7 linked regions of the Homo sapiens genome follow. The protein of the gene in region 2 purifies or fractionates together with the protein of the main gene of each other region. This does not show direct contact. Each region holds a gene or a part of one and is shown on either strand. Other genes may lie near its edges. The genes, in order: ATP13A3, DHCR24, SLC30A7, FUNDC1, VPS8, BRI3BP and SLC2A1.

Region 1 (3,500 bases), on a different chromosome or scaffold from region 2:
TATGCTTCTCATCTTAGCTAAATATCAAAATTTGAACATTGAGATTCCTGGGTCTGTCCCAGTCCTAATGAAACATAATCTCTGAAAAAATAGCCCTGACTTCTGTTTTCATTTAGTTTTTGCTTTACTGTGTTTTAATGCACCACTTTTTTTATTTTTTCAGACTAAATTTAAATCAACAAACTTTAAAACGGACAGTCGATCTTGACCTTACCTCTGGGTCAATTGCTGATGGATGACTGCACTGCGTGAGGGAGTCTGCATAATGCCAATTTATTTTGGCAACTTTCCCATCCTTTGGAGGTAATGCTTCAGCAATAATCACTTTATCCTGAGGTAGAATCATTCCACAATCTCTGGCCACAGAGACAGCAGTCAACATACTGTCACCTAATTTTCAAAATATTTTAAATGTATTGAAATTAAAATGGAAACGTGAACGTATCAAACATGTACTTGCTGAGAATCTACTACAGTCTCCATGACTGGGCTGGCAGAGTAACGATAATGTATGGTTCTTCCACTTACAGTTTAAAAATAACAAAATTGGAGCATACTTATCAAAAGAAGCCTCAAATAACGCAAGCACGTTATATGCTAAAGAAAACATCTCACCCACAATTTTTAAAGCCAAATATAATTCTCAATCTTTTCCAGTCATGCACTATTTGTATCTACACAATACCTGGCACGGTGCTACACACAGATCAGGTGGCTCAATAAATACTTACCGAAATAACTTTACAAAGTGACTAGTGGTCTGTGCAAGAACACCAGCACCATATCATAGAAAATGATGAATTACAAAAGCAAGATCATACAAAACAAAAAGGTAAGACAGGTAATAAGAACAGGTGTAAACGAGAAACAAGAGAGACAACTTCTCAGTCATGAGAAGAAAGAAGAGCAGCAAGAACAGGATCTTATTAAGGAGAAGCAGACAAAGGTTTGTGGATCCCACTGCTACCAAAACAGAAGAGCGAGATATTTCTTTCCTCAATTTCCACACACTATTTCCAAGAATATCTTCCTATGACCTTTGGTACACAAAGCCATATTCTGGCAAGGGGAAAATAAATAAATAAATAAAAGAGGAGGACGAGGAACAGGTGAAAAGTGTCTTGACAAAGAAGACGCAAGAACTAAGAATGGCTGGAATGCTAACAGACTTAGTTACCTTGAGTTATACGGTAAAATTATGTTATTAGATAGATCTCAAGAGTCTAAAACACAAAAATGTATACAGACTTTCTCCATATTAGTCTTACTGAACACGTAAGTGCCATTAAGTATCTTAAATCTGATTATCTGCTAAGAAAAAAAAACAAAAAACAGAGCTACCACAATTTCACACAGCTAATGAGTAAGAGTTATCTAATATTATCAACAGTATAGTAACATCAGGAGAATCCCTTAGATGTACTAGAAAAAAAAAAGTAGGCTATTTCACTAGAATTCAAGCTAGGGTAATAAACAATATCTTACATATAAACATTTCATGCTATCGAATATCTATTAATCATTTTCTATGTAGCTGACAGTTCTAAAAGTTGCAAAGGACCCCAACATGAGTAAAATATACTCCTAACCCTCAAGAATCTTATATTCTAGTACAGAAAACAAATCTACAAATAACACAAGGTACAATAAGTGCTATAAGAAATATACGAATAAAGAGAGAAAACAAAAAGGAGTCAAGTTTAAATTTTTACAGTGTACTTTTACTATTCTTTTTTTTTTTTTTTTTTTTTTGAGACGGAGTCTCGCTCTGTCGCCCAGGCCGGACTGCGGACTGCAGTGGCGCAATCTCGGCTCACTGCAAGCTCCGCTTCCCGGGTTCACGCCATTCTCCTGCCTCAGCCTCCCGAGTAGCTGGGACTACAGGCACCCGCCACCGCTCCCGGCTAATTTTTTGTATTTTTAGTAGAGACGGGGTTTCACCTTGTTAGCCAGGATGGTCTCAATCTCCTGACCTCATGATCCACCCGCCTCGGCCTCCCAAAGTGCTGGGATTACAGGCGTGAGCCACCGCGCCCGGCCGTACTTTTACTATTCTACTACACTTTCTATAAATAGGATTCGCTAGACCTCAAAAAGAATATGACAAAGTTATCTTGCGCTTGGGAAAATATTCAGAGCTAAAAGAGAACTTAGGTTGAAACCACTATAGACTATATAATATGATTTTATAACTGATTATCCCTCAATATAATATAACTTCAGCTCTGTCACACTCCATTTGCTTCTGTGTTCTTTTATAAAGTCTAACCTGTGACCATGACGGTGCGAATGTTGGCTTTATGCAAATCTTCAAGTACTGCAGGGGTTTCTTGCTTTAATTTGTTCTGCATTATAATTAATCCCATAAAATCCATGTTGTTCTCAATTGCATCTCTGCAGAAAAAGAAGTTTTAACACATAATGGTTTAGTCAATTGAGTAAGCAACTTATGTACACAAACTTGAAATATCTAAACAATTAAAAATGTCTATAAGTTATAATGCAGTTTAAAATATCTATAAATGAAAACATTTTATATGCTGAATAAACCACGTGTGTGTTCAAGAGTTCAGTATCTCAATATAATAATCATTTGGAAATGTATGTCACTGTACACTAAACAATTCTAATACTAAGGAATATTCATTTTGTGTAGTATCCAAAAATAAGCATAAATCTATTCTTTACTGCCCTCTACAACATATCCTAATTTAAATGTTAAGTGAAAAAGAAAAAACTGTGCCACAAGCACATTCAATACAGTTTTCGTGGATTCATTATCAAGTCTCAGATCAATTCTATAAAACAATTACTGATCCTGAAAATGTGACACAAGAACCATTAGCAATCCAACAATGAGATCTACTTGGGACCCAGAGATGGGTCTTTGAAAATATTACTAATATAGTTATCAAGATGCTATTCTTTAAATAACTGAGTATCAAGAATGCAGCAGGCACTATGCTAGTCACTGGGAGGTTAAAGACAAAAAGGGATGATCTCTGCTCTCAAGACACTTGGGTGGGGAAACAGACATGCAACCAAAGAGATGCACACAAAAATAGTACGTGCTTTAGCACTATAAAAGAGATGAAGTCTGTTCAGTGATAGTTACGTTCTTAAGAAATCTCAGGTCAGGCATTGTAGCTCATGCCTGTAATCCCACCACTTTGGGAGGCTGAAATAGGAGGATTGCTTGAACCTAGGAGTTTGAGGCCAGCCTGGGCAGCATAGTGAGACCCCGTCTCTACAAAAAATGAAAAAACAATTAGCTGGGCATGATGACATGTGCCTGCAGTCCCACTACTTGGAAGGCTTGAGGAGTGAGGATCATTTAAGGCCCAGGTGGTCAAGTCTGCAGTGAGAAGTGTTTGTTCCACTGCACTCTAGCCTAAGCAACAAAGAGAGATCCTATCTCAAAAGAAACAAACAAAAAAAGAAAACAAACAAAAAACACCTCAACCTACCTGAATTATATCATAGAAATTTTTTTCTCAATG
Region 2 (3,500 bases):
CTAGAGTGCAGTGGCGTAATCACGGCTCACTGCAATCTCTGCCTCCCAGGCTCAAGTGATCCTCCTGCTGCAGCCTCCACAGTAGCTGGAAATACAGGAACACATCACCATGCCCAGCTAATTTTTGTATTGTTTGTAGACCATGTTGTAGGCCATGTTGCCCAGGCTGGTCTCAAACTGCTAAGCTCAAGCAGTCCACCTGCCTTGGCCTCCCAAAGTGCTGGTATTACAGGAGTGAGCCACTGCACCCAGCCTTGTGTCTAAGTTTTTAACAAAAAAACTTTAACAAGTTAAAAAAAAAGTTTAAATAGAAACAAGCTTATAGAATAAGGATATAAAGAAGGAAACTATTTCTGTACACCTGTACAATGTGTTTGCATTTTAAGCTAAGTGTTATTACAAGAGTCAAAAGTTTTTAAAAAGTTTATAAAGTAAAAATGTTATAGTAAGCTAACAGTATTTATTATTGAAGAAAGAAAATTTCAAAAAATAAATTTAGTGTAGCCTAAGTGTACAGTGTTTATAAAGTCTACAGTGGTGTACAGTAATGTCCCAGGACTTCACATTCACTCACCACTCACTCACTGACTCACCCAGAGCAACTTCCAGTCCTGCAAGCTCCATGCATGGTAAGTACGCTACATAGGTGTACCATTCATCTTTTATACTGTATTTTTACTGTACCTTTTCCAAGTATAGGTATGTTTAGATACATAAATACCATTGTGTTACAGCTGCCTACAGTATTGAGCACAGTACCATGCTGTATAGGTCTGTAGTCAAGGAGTAGTAGGCTATCCAAATAGCCTACGTGTGAAGTAGGCTATCTCATCTAGGTTTATGTAATTACACTCTTATGATGTTTGCACAATGACAAAATTGCCTACAACTTGTTTCTTATAACATATCCCTACTGTTCTGTGACACATGACTGTACCTCACAGTGTTAAGACACACAGCTTTGATGCCAAGGCCTGACTTCCTCTCCAGAGAGGCAGGATGGCATAATGAACGGCTAAGGGACCTGGGAGCCTGATTACTGGGGTGTGAGTCCCAGCTGTGTGACCTATGGCAAATAATCTCTCTGAGCTTTAGTTTCCTATCTATAAAATAGGGATAATAATCCTTCTATTATTTAATAATAATCTATAAAATAGGGATAATAAACCTCCCTCATTAGGTTGTTGAAGGATAACATGCATGCCTTAATATATATAATGGATTTACAACATTGCCTAAGCTCATATAAGGGGCTACACAAATTTTTGTTTACAGATATAGACCCAGACTGAACAGGTACTGGGAATGAAGCACACCTAGAGGAGCCACCTCCCTGACCTCAGGATCCTTAATGCCCAGAGCAGGCTGGCATGGACATCTCCCATTGCTGAACTCACCGGAGTGCATCGCACAAAGCTGCCATCAGCCAGGACCAGCTCGTAAGCAGTGCAGATGTGTTGGAACAGGCCGTACTTGTGGGATGATGACTCGATGCCTGTGCCCATGATCAAGCCCCCTGCAGAGACATCACACACAGTGTCAGCAGGGAGAGCTGTGGGTACAGGGTTGGGGGTGGGTTGGAGCTGGGGGGCCTCCTAGCATGAGGGAGGTTTGGCAGGCTAGCAGAAATGGGGCTGTTGACTTAGGGGAGATTTCCCACCTGTCAATCTAGAGAGCAGGAGAGGGAAGGAGGGGCTCAGATGGGAGCATGAGGGTGTCCTTAGAGGAAGGGAGTGGCGAGCAGACCTTGTCAAGTGTACTCACACCTCACCTCTGGCCAGACTCAACCTAGAAATCTGTGTGCATTCATCTTGAGAGGGACTTTAATGAAAAGGGGGGTTGAAGGGGTGACAGGAAGCCCTGTCCCATGGGAATAGTTAAAAGAACTGAAGGTGTTTTCCCTGAAGAAGAAGAGGCTTTGGGGGCTATGAATCCTATGGGAGGAGAAGAGAGACTATACTTATTCTGTGTGTTCCATGGGGGGGAATTGGAGCAATGGGAACAAGTCACAGGGAAGCAGATTCAAACCAGAAATTAAAAGTGCCTTCTGATAACTTGAGCTGCTCAGAAATGGAACAGCAGGCAGTGAACACCCTGTCATTGGAGCAGGCAAGTAAGAGACTGAATGACTTCTGTCACAGATGGAATAGCGGCAATTCCAGGACTAGATGGAGGGTGGCCAAGGCCCATCAGCTCCGGTCCTAGGACCGTGTGTCTCTTCTTGCCCGTTAATATAGGGTCCTCACCCACTGTGAGGTCATCAAGCTCAGGCAACACGGGGAGAGTCCAGCCAATGGAGGTCAGCAGGGCAGTCACCTGGCCCATGGTCACCAAGGGCTCCACACGGACAATCTGTTGACACAAGAAAAGAGACCCTGGGTCAAAAGGAGGCTGCCAGGCCCAAGGGGAGCTGCTGCACACAGAAGGTGTCATCTCAAACCTTCCCAAACACTCACTGCAGGGATTCCTATATAGCCTTTACAGGCTCTTTCTAGAACATTGCCTTTAATTACAGGGAATGTGATTTCTGGCTCTCGGTTAGCTAGTGTTCAACCTCGCCCTTCAAGTATCTTTATACTAAATATTTGACTTAACCTTTTCTAAATTACAGGAGAAATACTCATTCACTTAGAAGATACAGCAAAAGTGAAGAAGAAAACAAAAATCACCCATCCTGGCTGGTCGTGGTGACTCATGTCTGTAATCCCAGCACTTTGGGAGGCCAAGGCAGGTGAATCATCTGAGTTCAGGAGTTTGAGACCAGCCTGGCCAACTTGGTGAAACCCTGTTTCTACTAAAAATACAAAAATTAGCCAGGCGTGGTGGCGGGCACCTGTAGTCCCAGCTGCTTGGGAGGCTGAGGCAGGAGAATCACTTGAACCTGGGAGGTGGAGGTTGCAGTGAGCCGAGATCGTGCCACTGCACTCCAGCCTAGGCAACAGAGTGAGACTCCGTCTCAAACAAACAAAAAAAAAATTCACCCTTCCTAGTTCTTCAGAATTACTAATGTTAATAACACAGTGTATTTACTTTGGTTTTTTTTTCCCCACACATACTGTATTGGTACTGTGAACCGCAAATATCAGAGACAGGTCTCAGTTAATCCAGAAAGTTTATTTTGCCAAGATTGAGGATGTGCGCCTCTGATACAGCCTCAGTACGTCCTGACAACATGTGCCCAAGGAGGCTGGTGCACAGCTTGATCTTACACATTTTAGGGAGACAGAACACATCAATCAATATATGTAAGAAGTATAGTGGTTCTGTCCAGGAAGGCGGGGACAACTTGAAGCAGGGAGAGGGCTTGCGGTCACAGGTAGATAAGAGACAAATGGCTGCATTCTTTTCAGTTTCTGATAAGCCTTTCCAAAGGAGCTAATCAGAATATGCATCTATCTCAGTGAGCAGAGGGATGACTTTGAATAGAATGCGGAAGCAGGTTTGTCCTGAGCAGTTCCCAGCTTGACTTTTCCCTTAGTTTAGTAATTTGGGGGCCCCAA
Region 3 (3,500 bases), about 46 Mb from region 2:
ATAAATGCCTGAGGAGAAGGATACCTCATCTCCATGATGTGATTATTTCACACTGCATGCCTGTATCAAAACATCTCATGTACCCCATAACAATATACACCTACTGGTTGGGCACAGTGGCTCACACCTGTAATCTCAGCAGTTCGGGAGGCCAAGGCAGGTGGATCACGATGTCAGGAGATTGAGACCATCCTGGCTAACACGGTGAAACCTCGTCTCTACTAAAAATACAAAAAGTTAGCTGGGTGTGGTGGCACACGCCTGTAATCCAGCTACTCGGGAGGCTGAGGCAGGAGATTCACTTGAACCCGGGAGGCAGAGGTTGCAGTGAGCCGATATCGCACCACTGAACTCCAGCCTGGGTGACAGAGCGAGACTCCATCTCAAAAATAAATAAATAAATAAATAATAAGAATATACAGCTACTATGTACCCACAAAAATTAAAAATAAAAAAATTTATTAAAAAAATAAAAAAGTAATAAATGGCCGAAGGAATAAAATAGACATTTCTCCAAAGAAGACATACAAATAGCCAACAGGTACATTAAAAGATGCTCAACATCACTAATCATCAGGGAAATGCAAATCAGAATCACAATAAGATATCATATCATACCTGTTAGGATGTCTATTACCAAAAAAGCAAAAGACAGTAAGTGTTGGGAAAGCTGTAGAGAAAAGGAAACCCTTGTATACTACTGGTGGCAATGTAAACTGGTGCAGACACTATGGAAAACAGTATGGAGGGTCCTCAAAAAAACAATAATGGAACTACCGTATGATCAGCAAACTGGGTATATATCCATGAGAATTGAAATCAAGAGCTCAAAGAGATATCTGCACTTCCGTATTCACTACAGCATTATTCACAATAGCCAAGACATGGAAGCAAGCTAAATGTCCATCAACAGATGAATGGATAAAGCAATGTGGTATATACATACAACGGAATATCATTCAGCCTTAAAGAAAGAAAGAAATCCTTCTAATTTTGACACATGAATGATCCTGAAGGACATTATGCTAAGTGAAATAAGCCAGACACAGAAGGACAAATACTACATTTATATCACTTATATAAGGAATCTAAAATAGTCAAACTCATAGCAACAGAGAATAGAATAGTGGTTGCCAGTGGTTGGAGGAAGTTGGAAAAGGGGAAATATTAGTCAAAGGGTACAAAGTTTCAGTTGTGCAAAATAAATAGGTCCTAGGGATTTGTATGGCATAGTGCCCATAGCTAATACTGTATTGTATACTTAAAAATCTGCCAAGAGTGTAGATCTTATGTTAAGTGCTCTTACTGCAAAAGTAGAAAGAAAGAAAGAAAGGAAGAAAGAAAGAAAGAAAGAAAGAAAGAAAGAAAGAAAGAAAGAAAGAAAGAAAGAAAGAAAAGAAAGAAAAGAAAAGAAAAAAGAAAAGAAGTGAGGAAGGGAGGGAGGGAAAGAAAGAAGAAAAGAAAAGAAAAAAGAAAAGAAAGAATTGAGAGTAGGAGGAAACTTTCAGTGGGAACGGATATGTTTATTGGAGAAATCATAGTGATGGTTTCATGGGTGCATACTTACCTCAAACTCATCAAGTTGTATACATTAAATATTTATCTGTTTTCATATGTCAATCATATCTCAATAGAGTAGTTAGAAATTTTTTTTTTTTTAGACAGAGTCTAGCTCTATTGTCCAGGCTGGAGTGCAGTAGCGTGATCTCAGCTAACTGCAACCTCCGCCTCCTGGGTTCAAGCTATTTTCTTGCCTCATGGAAAAATTTCAAAGACTGAAAAATGAAGGGCTTAGAAGGCTCACTCTTCAAGGTCCCTTTCATATTTTCAATTCTAAAGCTTTAGGATTCTGTCTATGTTGCAAATACAAGATAATACTTAAGCATACACTCTACTGAGAGTAATCAAATTGTGTCACCCAAGCAGCTTCTATTAAGCTATACTTTATAAACTATGTAAAATATAATTCAAAATAAAATATTAAGTTGATAAACACCTCATAACTTAGTACCCAATGCTACATAAGTTAGCATCCAAAGATTTCTAAAAAAAACATAGAGGTAAACATCAGGTGACAGACATCAAAAATTATAATACAAATGTGAAAAATTGAAAACCTCCACCATATTTTTATAAGCCAATATAGCACAAAAGGCCTCGTGATGCTTAAAAAATTATGATTTTCATTTCCTAAAATGCAATTGTTCCTCATTCACTAGTACTCATTTAAAATAGTGGCATTTGAGGGGAGGGAAAGGGGGACGGTTAATGAGTACAAAAAAATAGTTGAATGAATAAGACCTAGTATTTGCTAGCACAACAGAGTGACTATTGTCAATTTGTAATTTCATTGTACATTTTAAAATAACCAAGAGTATAATTGGATTGTTTATAACACAGGATAAATGCTTGAGGGAATGGAAACCCCATTTACCCTTACGTGATTACTATGTATTACATGCCTATACCAAAATGTCTCATGTAACCCATAAATATATACACCTACTATGTACCCACAAAAATTAAAAATTAAAAATAAATACATAAAAAAGTGGCATTTTATTATGATATACCCTCTGGAAAAAAGCGAACATCCACTGCCTTATACTGAGTTAATTTCATGCTATACAAAAAATAAACTAGCCCTGGGAACCATTTAGACTGATTCATTAGAAAAGAAGTTGATTTGGTATCTTTTTAATAAACTATTTCAACTAGGAAAAGTAATCCACAAAACTCTTGTTTATTTGGAGGCTGTCCATTTGTCTCTAGGCTGTACTCACCATGAGAATGAAAGTGTCCATGTCCATGAGCATGATCATGGCTATGTGCAGCACCATGTTTCACTTCATGGCTATGGCAATGATCGACATGGCCATGTGCCTGATCTAGAGCACCATTAAAGAGGGAATGACTGTGTCCGTGGCCTAGAAAACAAAGTGTTAGGACAGAAGGTATGTAAAAATATATTATATAAATGGTTACAATTATACTGACACTAGCGCAAAGAATCAGCTCTAAACTCAGATCAATTCAATAAACATTTACTTGTAAAAAGTGTTACACATTTGTTAAAACAATCCTGAGTTTCTGCTATGGAGTACCAGAAGGTAATGAAAGCATAGAGGAAAGTGATAGACCTTACTGGAAATGAAAATAAGTACTGACTGGAAGTATACAGATATCTCCAAAGAGGTCAGATAATGATATTCATTCATTTGAGAAATATTTATTGGTAACATTTTCTATTATAGGAATCATTCTAGGCACGGGAGATGAGGCAGTAAACAACAAAGACAAAATTCATGCCCAAAATTTTTCAAAGTACTATTACACACACTAACAAAGATTAACAAGACATATGCAAATGCTCACATTAAGGCAGACACAAGAAAGCTGCTGCATTTGGTAACAGAATCAGTAAAATTACATTAAAGCAGGTAGAAAAAGCTAAATGCAAAAGAATGCAGAATCCTTTCTCCACAGCATACCTAAAAATG
Region 4 (3,500 bases), on a different chromosome or scaffold from region 2:
TACGTTTTGGGGGAAAATGTCAAACAGTTGCAAGGAAAATGAAAAACCTTGAGATGCTAAAGATACTAACGCCTCTTTGGAAGAAGACTTCCCTAACACCTCCAAGCAGACAGAGCGTCTTCCCTCTGCTCTCTCAGCACTAAACACACCCTTCTAGCTCAGCACTGACCATATGGGCTGTGAATCTCTATATCCCTAGAGTCCCAACTAATGCCAGATGAATGAGACATAGTAAATAAATGATAACAAAGACAATGAATAAAGACTAAATCTCAAAAGCTGTATTAACCAACCTGGCTCAAATAATGACTCTCAGCAACAAAATGGATGAGCTAGATTATCCCAAAGGACCCAACCTAGCATGTCTACTAACAAGAGAATGATCTTTGATGCTGGAGTGATCTACCATCACTGAACAAATTCCCTTGAGAATCTGTTCCCTTGCAGGAAAAATGAAAAACCTTGAGATGCTAAAGATATTAATGCCTTAAAAAAGAGAGAGAGAGATGAAGTCTCACTATGTTGCCCAGGCTGGTCTTGGACTCTTGGCCTCAAGCCATCCTCCTGCCTTGGTCTCCCAAAGTGCTGGGATTACAGTGAGCCACGGCACCCAGCTGAGAAGTACACTTCTGATCAAACCGAAGAATACCAGTCTAAATTGAGCACCCTGCTCCAGTACAGAGATGACCAAGGACAAGCAATCTGCCCCAAGTGGGGTTCAGGTACAACCAACTTAACCAACCAATACATACAGGACCCAATTCAGTCTTGTCCACACAAAATTCATCTGCAACTACAAGGAAATGCAAGCCAACAGACTGGGGAGGGAATGGGGCAGTGATGACTGCTTTTTGAACATTTGACTTCCTATAACACTAAAATATTTAATGGGATTACATAAGGTACTTTTATTAGAATAAAAGCTTCCAAGTTAAAAATAAATAAATAAAATAAAATAATTCCAGGCCGGGCTCCGTGGCTCACGCCTGTAATGTTAGCACTTTGGGAGGCCGAGGCAGGCGGATTACCTAATGCCAGGAGTTCAAGACCAGCCTGGCCAACATGGTGAAACCCTATCTCTACTAAAAATACAAAAATTAGCCGGGCATAGTAGCGCATGCCTGTAATCCCAGCTACTTGGAAGGCTGAGGCAAAAGAATCACTGGAACCCAGGAGGCAGAGACTACAGTGAGCCGATATCACGCCACTGCACTCCAGCCTGGGCAACAGAGTGAGACACTGTCTCAAAATAATAATAATAATGATGACAGAGGGGCTGGGCGTGGTGGCTCACCCCTGTACTCCTAGCACTTTGGGAGGCCAAGGTGGGCAGATCACTTGAGGCCAGGAGTTCGAGATCAGCCATGTCAACATGGTGAAACTATGTCAGTGAAACTAAAAACACAAAAAACTAGCTGGGTGTGGTGGCTCACACCTAATCACAGCTACTCAGGAGGCTGAGTTACAAGAATCAGGAGGCGGTTCTTGAACCCAGGAGGCGGAGGCTGCAGTGAGCTGAGATCTCGCCACTGCATTCCAGCCTGGGTGAAAGAGGGAGACTGTCTCAAAAATAAATAAATAAATAAATAATAATGCCAGAGGCCAGGCTCGGTTGCTCACGCCTATAATCCCAACACTTTGGGAGGGTGAAGCAGGCAGACTGCTTGAGCCCAGGAGTTTGAGACCAGCCTGGGCTATACGGCGAAATTCTGTCTCTACAAAAAATACAAAAATTAGCCAGACATGGTGGCATGCACCTGTAGTCCCAGCTACTTGAGAGGCTGAAGTGGCAGGATCGCTTGAGCCTCAGGAGTTCAAGGCTGCAGTGACCCATGGTCACGCCACTGCACTCCAGCCTGGGCCAGAGAGTGAGACTGTTTCCAGAAAAACACACACACACACACACACACACACACACACACACACGGCTTTCAGATGAAGATTCATGTTGGCCAGACACACACACACACACACACACACACACACACACACACACACACACACACACACACGGCTTTCAGATGAAGATTCATGTTGGCCAGAAAGCTCTAAACAGGTAGATGGGGCTTTTTGCTTGTGAACTTCACCATATGCTGATCTAATTGGGCTGTTTCACTGCGGGAAATTCTGCCCACCCCCAACTCCTTATCTTTAGATCATTTTTCTTGGACTGGTCAGATTTCCCAGAGAAGGGAAAGCCCAATCCACATGTCCATATTGTTTAGAGCTTTCCATCAACTTTTAGTGCTCAATTCTTAAATATGAGCAGACAACCAAGGATCATCAGACTTGGAGGAAGGCCTTTAACTTGAAAACTAGAAACCAAAATAAACAAGCAGGAAAAAGGTTGGGGAGGGGGAACAAAACACCTTAGACAAACAGGGACTTGGTAGGAAGAAGCTTAAAACACACACACACACACACACACACACACACACACACACAGAAGCTTGATCATTTATGTCCTCAGAGAGCTTAAAAAAGACAATGCACAACTGAAAGAGCTCTTAATGGCCAAAGCTGGTAAAATTTGAGCAATAAAAGAGCATTAGATTATAAACCAAAGTATAAAATAAATATCCATGAGTCCATATTGATATAAATAAATGACTGAATAAATAAGAGACAAACCTTCCAACAGACTATTTCTAAATAATTTATGTAGCTACTCTGCCTTCAGAAAGGTGGAGCATAATTACACTCCTGAAATGTGGGCTATACACAGTGACTCCCTTCCAAAGAGTACAGTATGAGGCCCGGCACGGTGGCTCATGCCTGTAATCCCAGCACTTTGGGAGGCTGAGGAAGGCGGATCACTTGAGGCCAAGAGTTCAAGACCAGCCTGGCCAACATGGTGAAACCCCATCTCTACGGAAAATACAAAAATTAGCCAGACAGTGGTGTGCGCCTGTAATTGCAGCTACTCGGGAGGCTAAGGCACGAGAAACACTTGAACCTGGGAGACTGAGGCTGCCATAAGCCAAGATCACACCACTTGCACTCCAGCCTGGGCAACAGAGTGAAACTCTGTCTCAGAAAAAAAAAAAAAAAAAAGGAACCCCAAGAGTACAGTATGAAAAGGGGGAAAAGCTGGTGGATCCTCTCATATGGGGATAGTAGGAATACTTTCTGGAAGGCTACTTGACAATCAAGAGGCTTAAATATATATATGTGTGTGTGTGTGTATATATATATATATTTTTTTTTTTTGAGACGGAGTTTCGCTTTTGTCACCCAGGCTGGCGTGCAATGACATGATCTCGGCTCACTGCAACCTCTGCCTCCCAGGTTCAAATGATCCTCCTGCCTCAGCCTCCCGAGTAGCTGGGATTACAGGCATGCACCACCATGCCCGGCTAATTTTGTACTTTTAGTAGAGATGGGGTTTCACCTTGTTGGCCAGGCTTGTCTCGAACTTCTGACCTCAGGCGATCCGCCCGCCTCGGCCTCCCAAAGTGCTGGGATTACAGGCGTGAGCCACCATGCCTGGCCTAAATATG
Region 5 (3,500 bases), on a different chromosome or scaffold from region 2:
AAACATTTACTGAATATTTACAATATACAAGCACTGTCCTAGTGGCTGGAAATATAACAGTAAAGATGGTCTCTAGAGTTATGGAGCTTTCTGTCTAGTGGGGAAGAAAAATATTAGACAAGTAATTTTAAAAGTGCTGAATGTGGCCAAGCACAATGGCTCACACTTGTAATCCCAATATTTGGGAGGCTGAGGTGGGAGGAACGCTTGAGGCCAGGAGTTCGAGAGTCAGCCTGGGCCTTGGTTGGAGACCCGCAAGACCTCGTCCCTCTTTTGTTTTTTTTTAAGTGCTGAATGTTATCAAAAGATGCATGTAACTAACTTAGTTCAGAGGCCAGGGAAGGTCATGTTAATCATGAGCTCAGAGACAACAGAAGATAGCACAGAACTTTCCTGGCAGAGGCAACAGTATATGTAAAAGGCACTGAGGCCAGAGACTAGCTAGGAAGCTATGGCAGAATCCAGGCTAGACATGTACATGATTTAGACTAAGGAAACAGCAATGGGGGAGACAAAAAAGGAGAAATTCAAGAGATTTTTGGAGGTAGAGTCAATAGGACTTGGTGATAGAGCACATATGAAGAGAGAAAGGTAACTGAAAAGTAACTCGTAAGTTTCTGGCTGGAGAAACTAGGTGGACAGTGGTGAACTTGCTTCACTGAGCTAGGAAACGCAAGAGATTATTAATACAAAGGCACATTCTTGCCTCTGTGACTTCAGTTCATCTCACTTCCCCCAGTATGCATACCTACCCTTCCTGCAGTAGTTGCAGTATATCCTTCATAAAGCCATTAATACTCTCTCTAGTCCATACTAATCACTTTGTACTCTGAATTTACATCAGCTTGATTTTCATCACATAGTTCAATCCTTAAACCATTTTCTGTAGTAATAATGAACACACTGATTTTGCTTTTCAAACAAGATTATAAGCTGTGTGGAAGATGAAATTATGTTGTATACTTCCTTCTTTCCTTTGCTGCTTGTGCCCATCACAGTGTAGAGGACATAATAGGTGCTCAATGATACTTGCTGTCATTAATACACACATATGTAGTTGCACATACATTAACACATATTCACATTCATATCTTTATACATTTACATATACCATTAATTATTTGTCAGTCAAAGAAATGAAGCTGAGAAATAAACCATGAGAAGTTATGTAGCTGAGAGTGATCACCATTTTCCGATGCTAATCATTAAAGCCTTAGATAAAAATTAAATAGGTCACTCTCTCTCCAAAGACTTAGGATAGTAACACAAATTTCTCTGACACATTATTAATTGCTGATGAATAAAAAAAATTGTAAGAGGCTTTCTAATGGTCATATTAGGACTTACCAATAGAAAATGAACAACATCTCCTCTGCAGAAGGCAAGCATGGGATTCACGTAATTTTGTACTGCTACAAAGTGCCAGGCCAGCAGTGGCACACTGGAAGGATCCATCTAAGTAGGGAGATGGAAAAAAAAAATCATCACAGTTAATAAACAAGGGGACAAAGAGAAAACTATGGTTAAAAACAGCATCTGACTAGTGTTCCTTGATAAAAACTTTCCCCAATTTCTCAGTAAAGCAAGAACTAACTGGGAGGTATCATGAGGGAACTTTCTGGGTTGATGGTAATGTTCTACATCTTGATAGGCATTTGAGTTACAAAAGTGTTAAGCATTTGTCAAAGTTCAGCAAATGTACACTCAAGATCTGTGCATTTCTTTGTATGTATATTCTACACCAAAGGAAAAACCTAAAGAAGTATTAAACTCTAGCTAATAATATGCATGCTAAATATTTAGGGGAAAGAATACTGGTTTCTGAAATTTCCTTTGAAATACATAAAAAATATAATTTGATAAGTGGACAGAGGGATGGGTAGATGGACAGATATGTAATAAAGGGCAGTAAATGTTAATTATAGAATTTAAATGGTAGCTATACAAGTATTCAATGTAAAATTCAATTTTGTTTGAAAATGTTTATAATAAAATGTTGAAAAAAAACAATAAAAACATACAAAAAGAAGCAAACACATAACACCATGAAAAAAATCTCAATTCGCCAATGAAGCTAATCTAACAAATGTTAATGGCCATCTAAGCCAGTTTTGCCATCTGAAAGGATAGACCTGCTTCCCCTAGGGCCCAGAGACACACAGGGTACCAACAAGAAAACAAAAGTGAGTTCCTTCACCATAGGGAACGCTTTCTGCACCAGCCAGAGTTCTGTACCACCATTCTCCATCCCATCCTATCAACACCTCTCCTCATATATACATTGGAAGATTACAACTCTGAAAACAATCAAGAAGAAAAAAAAGGGAAAACTGGGATATAAATAACACATGCTAGGAAGTATCATCCTCCAAAGTAAATTATCAGAGGCAGAAGCCAGGGAAAGCACATGTAATAGCAATCTATGGCGCATATTACAGTGGGGTCTACTCTATCCATAGTTCAGTGCCAAAGCTGCAGGCAGTGAGTATAAGCCTGTCTCAGCACAGCAGCCATGTAAAAACAAGTATCTTTCAAACACTGAAAATCAGGGCTTGGACTCAATAAATCAACTTATCCTTCAACTTTAAATCTGATAAGGGAATTTTACTGCACTCAGAAGGGCAACGAATGAAGCTAGGAAATGCCATGCATGAAGTTAGGTGTGACCACAGAGTACCAGGACAGCAATATACAGGGACTGTCAAGTTAAGGTTAAGAACAAAAGCCAACTGTATGCTGTCTATGAGAGAAAAGCTTAAAGTGATAAAGTGGAAAAGTACAAGACTCATGATCCCTAGGACACTGTGCTGGTCATCAGCTTTATGATGCTTTGATCACCTTAAGGCAAGTCCAGCCAACGATCTCTGGAGCACTGACTTTCATCCTGTCTAGTTTTCTGACAATCTCATAGAATTCACCCCTTGCAAGCCATCTCTCTCAACCTCCTGACATGGTCCTTCCTTTGGCAAATAAGATGGAGGGACGTACTCACCCGGCCATAGGGAAAAGTCATCCATACTTTCAAGGATGGTTTCAATCCAATGACCAGTATCTGTAAGAGAAAAATATGTTTTCAATATTGACCTTGGAATTTTCAAATATTTGGTATTCAAAGCTTCTAAAAGTTCTGAGTTTTAACTTCTAAATACACTTACTTTTGTCAAGGATGCCATGGCCAATAATGAAAACTGTGTGATGGGATGATCTTTCAACTCAGGCTTAGAATGCAGAGGCTCAATACAGCAGACTTCACCCTTGGAACCACTGAACAGACATCTAGATTCACAGGTTCTCACTCCCATCACTCTCCTGAAAATGCAATTTGAAAATTCAGAATCAATTTAGCAATGATCCAAGGCACTACTATCTCTACCTGGACTACTTTCATAGCCTCCTACCTCCTACCTCCTTAACCCCCAACAATCCAAGCTCCACAGGACAGCAGCATGGTCTTTTTATTATACAAGTCAGATTCATTTATTTTTCTGCCAAAAACAGTC
Region 6 (3,500 bases), on a different chromosome or scaffold from region 2:
TATACCACGTTTAGGTACTAAAACAGCTTTGCTTATGTTGGCCAGGGGAAAACATGGCATTCTGTGCGCAAAGCTAATGATCGCCAGCCCTGCCTTGGCCCCTCCCTTGTTTATGGTCATTGTAAGATGCCCGCATGTTAAGGCTTAAGCTGTCACTGGGCTGGGTGTAATACCCGCTTCATTCCTCCTCCCACCCTCTTACCCGAAACATGAAGGGCACTGTGCTCTATTGAGATCTCGATAAGATCATCATTTTAACTTGTATTCAACTGAGGGAGGTAACATGATATCTGGGTGCTGGTGGATTGAGACCTCAAGCATCAATTCAAAATTGCTGTCGAAAATATGCACTATTTTTTTTTTCCACTCTGGCTAAGTGTAGGCTCTGAAGCCAGTTTTATAGCTTGATACATTCTGGTGAAAGATGTCTTCATTTTTAATGAAAGAACCTACAGTTAGTAGGTGTCACCTCAGGGTAGAAATTCTGATAGAAATTCTGATTATTTGAAACTCTGATAGAAATCCTAGATGCTAGATTTGAAGAAAACCTGGGTTTTATTGCATAGATTTCACCTTTTCTGGGGCACATCTTACCCCAAAATAATTGGGGATTTTTTTGTTCCTTCTCCATTCCATGGAACCTTGTAGGGTGTTGGGATTGGGCCTCCCCTCGCCACCCGCCACATGTCTTTGTTTTTTTCTCTCTTTTGTATGTGGAAAAATGTATTTTTGTACCATATCTCATACCTGGAGAGAAACCTTTTTTCTATCTTCAGGGCTGTAGAATATATTAGCGTAACACTTCACTGAATGTGACGTAAAAGCATTCTGATGAAAACTGGTTCTGTTATAATTAAGACTCAGTGTTTAAAATATCTTAATCAGTGTTAATTTCCCAGTGTTTCAGTATCACAGTAAATACTTGTTTTACTGAGAACAGAAAATAATCCAGAAAAGGAAAAGGACCAGCCCTCTCTAGATTGCTGGAATTGTATGGATGTGTTGGGGTTGGTTTAGTGATCTCTTCCTTGACACCCTAGCAAAGATGCTTTTGTGGAGTGCAAACCTTTCATAAATATACTTTCCAGGCTGGGTGCAGTGGCTCAAGCTTGTAATCCCAGCACTTTGGGAGGCCAAGGCGGGTGGATCACTTGCGGTCGGGAGTTCGAGACCAGCCTGGCCAACATAGTGAAATCCCGTCTCTACCAAAAAATACAAAAAAAAAAAAAAAAAAAAAAATAGCCAGGTGTGGTGGTGGGTTCCTGTAGTCCCAGCTACTCAGGAGGCTGAGGTGGGAGAATTGTATGAACCTGGGAGGCAGAGGTTGCAGTGAACTGAGATCACACCACTGTACTCCAGTTGAGGCGACAGAGTGAGACCCAGTCTCAAAAAAAAAAAAAAGTGTGTGTGTGTGTATATATATGTATATATATATACACACACACACACTTTCCAATACCAGTCGGCATTACCCGCCCTTTGGTTTCTTTTGCTTTGGATTTCAGCCCCCATATCATTTCTGGTAACAGAGCACAGCAATAGAATTTCTGGGAAGCAGACCTTGTGAATCGTGCCTGTGTCTTAATTCACAAAGGGTAAGTGAATGCCGTTGAAAGGTGTTTCATACACTTACCCCAGAAATGAGAGCCTGTCTCATGCAGGAGTCGGGAGGCAGCGATGTCAGGGAACTGGGACTATGTCTTTATGACTGTGATGGTGGTAACCAAGTGGGGTGGTCCCCTCTGGGGAGCTGAGTAAGAACGCAAAGGTTTGGGTCAGTGATTAGGAAGACTATAATATGACTTTGTGCATGCCCGGGAGGGCTGCCTTGTAGAGAGGATGTGAGCAGCTTAGTCGCTCATCTGGCCCTGTGATTCAGGCTTATGGAGCGTTAAGAATAACAGCTGTCAAATGGCCTAGACATGGTTAATGCAATTTGTTGCTAGTGGAAATCCTGAATTGCTTCCTTTCTGTGATCACTGCTACTTCTTAAGATGCTTTTGATGAATGTCATCTGCCTTACAAGTTGACACCTGATAACTTCTCCCTGATGGGTTTCCGAACTGGCTGACTTAACCAAAAAGCCAGCTCTTGCCATCTATCTTGCATTAAAAGGAATTCCTGAGGCTCCTAAGGGGTCAGCTGCCCCACTCCTGACTTTTTTATTTTTAATGGTCTATACCTTCTGCAACATTTTTGTTTATGGCCATTTGAATAGTTGGACTTTGACTCCTCACTTGTGAATAATAGGAATATATTTTGCAGAATCTAACATAATACCCTTAAAATTCATACTGGACAACCATCAGTGTGATGTATAGTATCTGGTGTAAACAAATTTTATTCAGCATATTAAATTATTCTGTGTTTTGCTTTTCCTTGATATGTAGGAGGTGCACCAGTACCAGTTTTTCTCTTGTGGTGGCTTAAAACGCTGATTGCCATTTGCATTGTCTACTGAAAAGCTGTGGCAGCGAGTGGTATTATTGACCATGTGTTCTCATGTCTTTTTGCAGATTTAAAGGTTTTATTGTAGTGTCCATTTAATATCTGCATGTGTGTTTAATCTCTGAATACCATGTAATTAAACTGATTAACTTGTGATGGTGATGGTGATTAGCACACACTAAAAACCCAATGAAGCAATTGTCTCCCTCTTCTTAACTGGAAATCACACTTGTGAGGTATGGTATCCATTATCAACAGTGGATTCATGATTGACTTCATATTTTGTGTATCTGGTTATAAATTTTGTATAGCATTTAATTTGGCACTTAATATAAATCCATTTGATTTGAATAGTGTGTGTGTGTACATGGTGTGTGTGTGTGTGTGCACTTTAGTTTCGTGAGCCTTGGGAAACTGATTCTACAAATATCTTATATAGAGATAAATGTATCAGGCATTTTTTTGCAAAGCGATATATACATTCCTCTTATTTATTAAATCACTGGCTTTGGTGTTATGTAGAGATATTTGTAGATCTCAGAACAGAATTAAAATATTGTGAAAATTACAGCTTAATAAATGTTTATTGTAATTTTGTTGTATGGACTTTTAAAATATATCTCATCACTTCTAACCAAACATTTGTGGAGTTTCCCCAGTTTTGATGTGTAACCAGGATTCTATGGTTCTATTCCTCGATCTGAGAAGAGTCATAAAACCTTGAATTTATGTATTCAGTTGGAGGTAAGGTTGCAAGATAAAATACAGGATGCCCAGTTAAATTTGAATTTCAGATAAACAACCAGTAGTGTTTTAGTATAGTGTAGAAGTGTTGGTTGCTTATCTGAAATTCAAATGTAAGCAAGTTTCCTGTATTTTTAGTTGCCAAATCTGACAGTCCTAGCACAGTGATGCGTGCCTCTCCACCCCACCCCGCATACCCATGCTGCTTTCTCAGGTCCTAACAATCCTTTTCTTTCTATTTTTTTTTTTTTTTTTTTTTTTTTTTTGAGATGGACTCTCACCCAGGCTGGAGTGCAGTGGCGAGATCT
Region 7 (3,016 bases), about 12 Mb from region 2:
GTAGTCCTCGCGTCCGGCCACCGGCGCGGGGCTCCCACCCATCCCCACCCCACCCCACCCCACCCCACCCCGTCTGTTTCCTTTCTGGTCCAGTGGGGACAGCCCTGAGTGAGCAGCGTCGTAGGAGTAAGATACCTGGGCCCCCGGCCTCTCCTTCTTGCCCTGCCCCCGCACCCCCTCCCGCACGGGGACCCGGATAACTCCTTTCAACAGAAGTCTTTTGGGAGCACACGATAAGGCTTCCTTTCATCTGGCCTCAGCCCTTCACCAGTTAACCGCCCTGTCCCCAGGCTCAGGCAGGGCATATTCTTCGCAACCTGCTCTTCTTTGTTGAGATGCAGATGGATGTCCTCATAGATTCTTTATACCTAATGGTAATACATATAGGTATTTCCATTTGCTAAGTACCAGTTTTCCTTTCTCACACCCTTCTTACAACCCCTCTTCATGTCAGGGAGAAAAAAGCCTGCCTGTAGTTACAAAAGCAAACTTCTCCCAGATTTTGTCAGCTGAGCCTCTAGAGACAAATATCTTTGGTGTTTTATTTCCTCCAGTATTTTCTGAGTGCCTGCTGTGCATCAAGCACTGTACTGAATAGTGCTGAGGACCCACAGGAACCAAATCGGCATCTTCTCATGAAATTCAGACTAGTGGCAGAAAACTGGACTTGTGATGAAGGAGCAGATGAAGTGCTCTGGAAATTCAGGGGTGAAGGAGGAGGATGAGCTGTCTTTAGAGATGAAGCAGTAGTATACAGAGGAACCAGAGGGGGCAATTCCAAATGAAATGAACACAGGGCAGCTTGACAGCTCATTGGGCCCATACAAAGAACGTGGTTCATTTTGTGTGTGTGGGGAGGGGTGCAGGAGGTGGGTGGAGTTAATGGAGTAGTGGTTGTATGGTACCATTGTTAAAAGCAGGTGTTTTAGCTTATTCACTGTGCGACTTCAGGCACATAACCTCTTTGAGCCTGTCCAATAAAGGTACAGTATTTACTTCACATTCAAAATAATGCATTTCAAGCCTGAGCATCACGGCTGGCACAAAACTAGTGTTTTTTTGAACACCAACTATCAAATATGTGATAGAAATGCCTTGAATGTCAAGATAAAGAATGTATATATTCTCTGGGTAACAGGGATCAAACAGATTTTTGAGCAAGAGGACACTGATGAGAGGTACGTGTAAGGGACTGGATCCTGAGTCGAAGTCTAAGCCGTTGCAGTGGTTGCAACCCCACTTACTTCTGTCTCACTCCCATCCAAACCTCCTACCCTCAATCCACAAGCATTTCAAAACCATGTTTCTAAAAACCAGCCATTTATATCTGTTTAGGTAAGTAACAGGAGTGAGGTGGTGTATTTACAAGTTGGCTTGTCCAGATATACTATAACTTAGTGTCTGTATTTAATATTGACAACCAAAAATATATATAAATATCTTGCATCTATACACAACAGGGCAGGAGTCTCCATGTCTTCTTGAGCAGTGAGTTTGCAGGCTCCCACAGGCCCTCTTCTCATGGTAATAGTGTGGCCCTCAGTGCAAAGGAGACTAGAACCCGGCAGCCCAGACTGGCCCTTCCCCTCTCCTCCCTGCACTCCAGTGCTCCCAACTGGTCTCAGGTAAAGAAAGATTAATTTGAGTGGTTGGGTAGGAAGAGATGGGAAGGGGCAAATCCTAATGGAGCCTGACCCCTAGAGTGGGGAGATCCAGGCCAGCAGAACGGGTGGCCATAGCCACCTCCTGGGATAGAAGCTTTGTAGTTCATAGTTCGATTAGTGTGTCCTTAGGACATAGGTCCAGCCCTACAGATTAGCTGGGTGAAGAAGGCAAGTGTCTCGACAGGGCTTAGTCTCCACCCTCAGGCATGGAACCATTCAGGGTGAAGCCTGGGATGTGGGCACAGGAGACTCAGGCTGATATAAAAATAACAAAATCAGTAATAAAAAAATTATAAAACCTGTTGCTTGTCTGAATAGATTTGAGCAACAGTCTTGCTTTTGTTAAAATCCTGGAGCCGTTAAGTCCTGAATATTCTTCTGGACATCATTGCTGGCTGGAGAAAGGAGCCCCAGGCCCGGCTCGGCTGACATCTGTCAGGTTTGGAAGTCTCATCCAGCTGCCTGTGCTCCTGAGAGATCCTTAGGGCTGCTGGGAGCAGGCCGGGCTGGTGATCTGGGGCGACTCACACTTGGGAATCAGCCCCCAGGGGATGGAACAGCTCCTCGGGTGTCTTGTCACTTTGGCTGGCTCCCCCCTGCCGGAAGCCGGAAGCGATCTCATCGAAGGTCCGGCCTTTAGTCTCAGGAACTTTGAAGTAGGTGAAGATGAAGAACAGAACCAGGAGCACAGTGAAGATGATGAAGACGTAGGGACCACACAGTTGCTGAAAGACACACAGACACACTTGGTTGGAGTCATGACCCTACATCCTGGCTGTAGGACTTTGGATAAGTCACTTTACCTTTGGGCCTTTGAGCTGAAAAGGGAACATCCACCTACCCAGGGATGCTATCATAATTAACTGAGACCACGCTTGTACCTAGAATGTAACAGGCTCCAGGAGCACCATTCAAGGCTAAGGGGAGAACCCTGGAGTTGAGGTCAGCATTCTTGGTCATGTGACCTGGGCTTCCTACCCTCAGTTTCCTCCTCAGCATGATTCCTAATGAGAATGCTGGGCCAGCACTTTGCACAGCACTGTGGGGTCATGCGTGCGGGTGAGTATAGAGACAGTGGGGGTTCTCACCTCCACATACTGGAAGCACATGCCCACAATGAAATTTGAGGTCCAGTTGGAGAAGCCTGCAACGGCAATGGCAGCTGGACGTGGACCCTGGCTGAAGAGTTCAGCCACGATGAACCATGGGATGGGGCCAGGACCCACTTCAAAGAAGGCCACAAAGCCAAAGATGGCCACGATGCTCAGATAGGACATCCAGGGTAGCTGCTCCTGTTGAGGATGACGGAGAGGGGGAAAAGTTAGACTGGGTTGTGATGGATCCTCAGGGGA

The links.
Region 1: the proteins of DHCR24 (region 2) and ATP13A3 purify together in Homo sapiens (co-immunoprecipitation; 2 studies listed by BioGRID and IntAct, with this or other methods). This does not show direct contact.
Region 3: the proteins of DHCR24 (region 2) and SLC30A7 purify together in Homo sapiens (affinity purification with mass spectrometry; 2 studies listed by BioGRID and IntAct, with this or other methods). This does not show direct contact.
Region 4: the proteins of DHCR24 (region 2) and FUNDC1 purify together in Homo sapiens (affinity purification with mass spectrometry; one large-scale study listed by BioGRID and IntAct). This does not show direct contact.
Region 5: the proteins of DHCR24 (region 2) and VPS8 purify together in Homo sapiens (co-immunoprecipitation; one large-scale study listed by IntAct). This does not show direct contact.
Region 6: the proteins of DHCR24 (region 2) and BRI3BP purify together in Homo sapiens (affinity purification with mass spectrometry; one large-scale study listed by BioGRID and IntAct). This does not show direct contact.
Region 7: the proteins of DHCR24 (region 2) and SLC2A1 purify together in Homo sapiens (affinity purification with mass spectrometry; one large-scale study listed by BioGRID and IntAct). This does not show direct contact.

What each region holds. Positions count from the first base shown.
Region 1 is NC_000003.12:194,431,503-194,435,002, forward strand, and holds part of ATP13A3 (polyamine-transporting ATPase 13A3), read right to left. Parts: intron 2,395-3,500; coding exon 2,270-2,394; intron 391-2,269; coding exon 215-390; intron 1-214. UniProt on the Homo sapiens protein: ATP-driven pump involved in endocytosis-dependent polyamine transport. Uses ATP as an energy source to transfer polyamine precursor putrescine from the endosomal compartment to the cytosol.
Region 2 is NC_000001.11:54,873,696-54,877,195, forward strand, and holds part of DHCR24 (delta(24)-sterol reductase precursor), read right to left. Parts: intron 2,353-3,500; coding exon 2,247-2,352; intron 1,517-2,246; coding exon 1,398-1,516; intron 1-1,397. UniProt on the Homo sapiens protein: Catalyzes the reduction of the delta-24 double bond of sterol intermediates during cholesterol biosynthesis.
Region 3 is NC_000001.11:100,913,090-100,916,589, reverse strand, and holds part of SLC30A7 (zinc transporter 7), read right to left. Parts: intron 2,928-3,500; coding exon 2,784-2,927; intron 1-2,783. UniProt on the Homo sapiens protein: Zinc ion transporter mediating zinc entry from the cytosol into the lumen of organelles along the secretory pathway.
Region 4 is NC_000023.11:44,529,360-44,532,859, forward strand, and holds part of FUNDC1 (FUN14 domain-containing protein 1), read right to left. Parts: intron 1-3,500. UniProt on the Homo sapiens protein: Integral mitochondrial outer-membrane protein that mediates the formation of mitochondria-associated endoplasmic reticulum membranes (MAMs).
Region 5 is NC_000003.12:184,853,666-184,857,165, reverse strand, and holds part of VPS8 (vacuolar protein sorting-associated protein 8 homolog), read right to left. Parts: intron 3,310-3,500; coding exon 3,156-3,309; intron 3,053-3,155; coding exon 2,993-3,052; intron 1,456-2,992; coding exon 1,348-1,455; intron 1-1,347. UniProt on the Homo sapiens protein: Plays a role in vesicle-mediated protein trafficking of the endocytic membrane transport pathway.
Region 6 is NC_000012.12:125,028,145-125,031,644, forward strand, and holds the end of BRI3BP (BRI3-binding protein precursor), read left to right. Parts: 3' UTR 1-3,087; downstream 3,088-3,500. UniProt on the Homo sapiens protein: Involved in tumorigenesis and may function by stabilizing p53/TP53.
Region 7 is NC_000001.11:42,924,853-42,927,868, forward strand, and holds the end of SLC2A1 (solute carrier family 2, facilitated glucose transporter member 1), read right to left. Parts: intron 2,957-3,016; coding exon 2,753-2,956; intron 2,390-2,752; coding exon 2,189-2,389; 3' UTR 501-2,188; downstream 1-500. UniProt on the Homo sapiens protein: Facilitative glucose transporter, which is responsible for constitutive or basal glucose uptake. Has a very broad substrate specificity; can transport a wide range of aldoses including both pentoses and hexoses.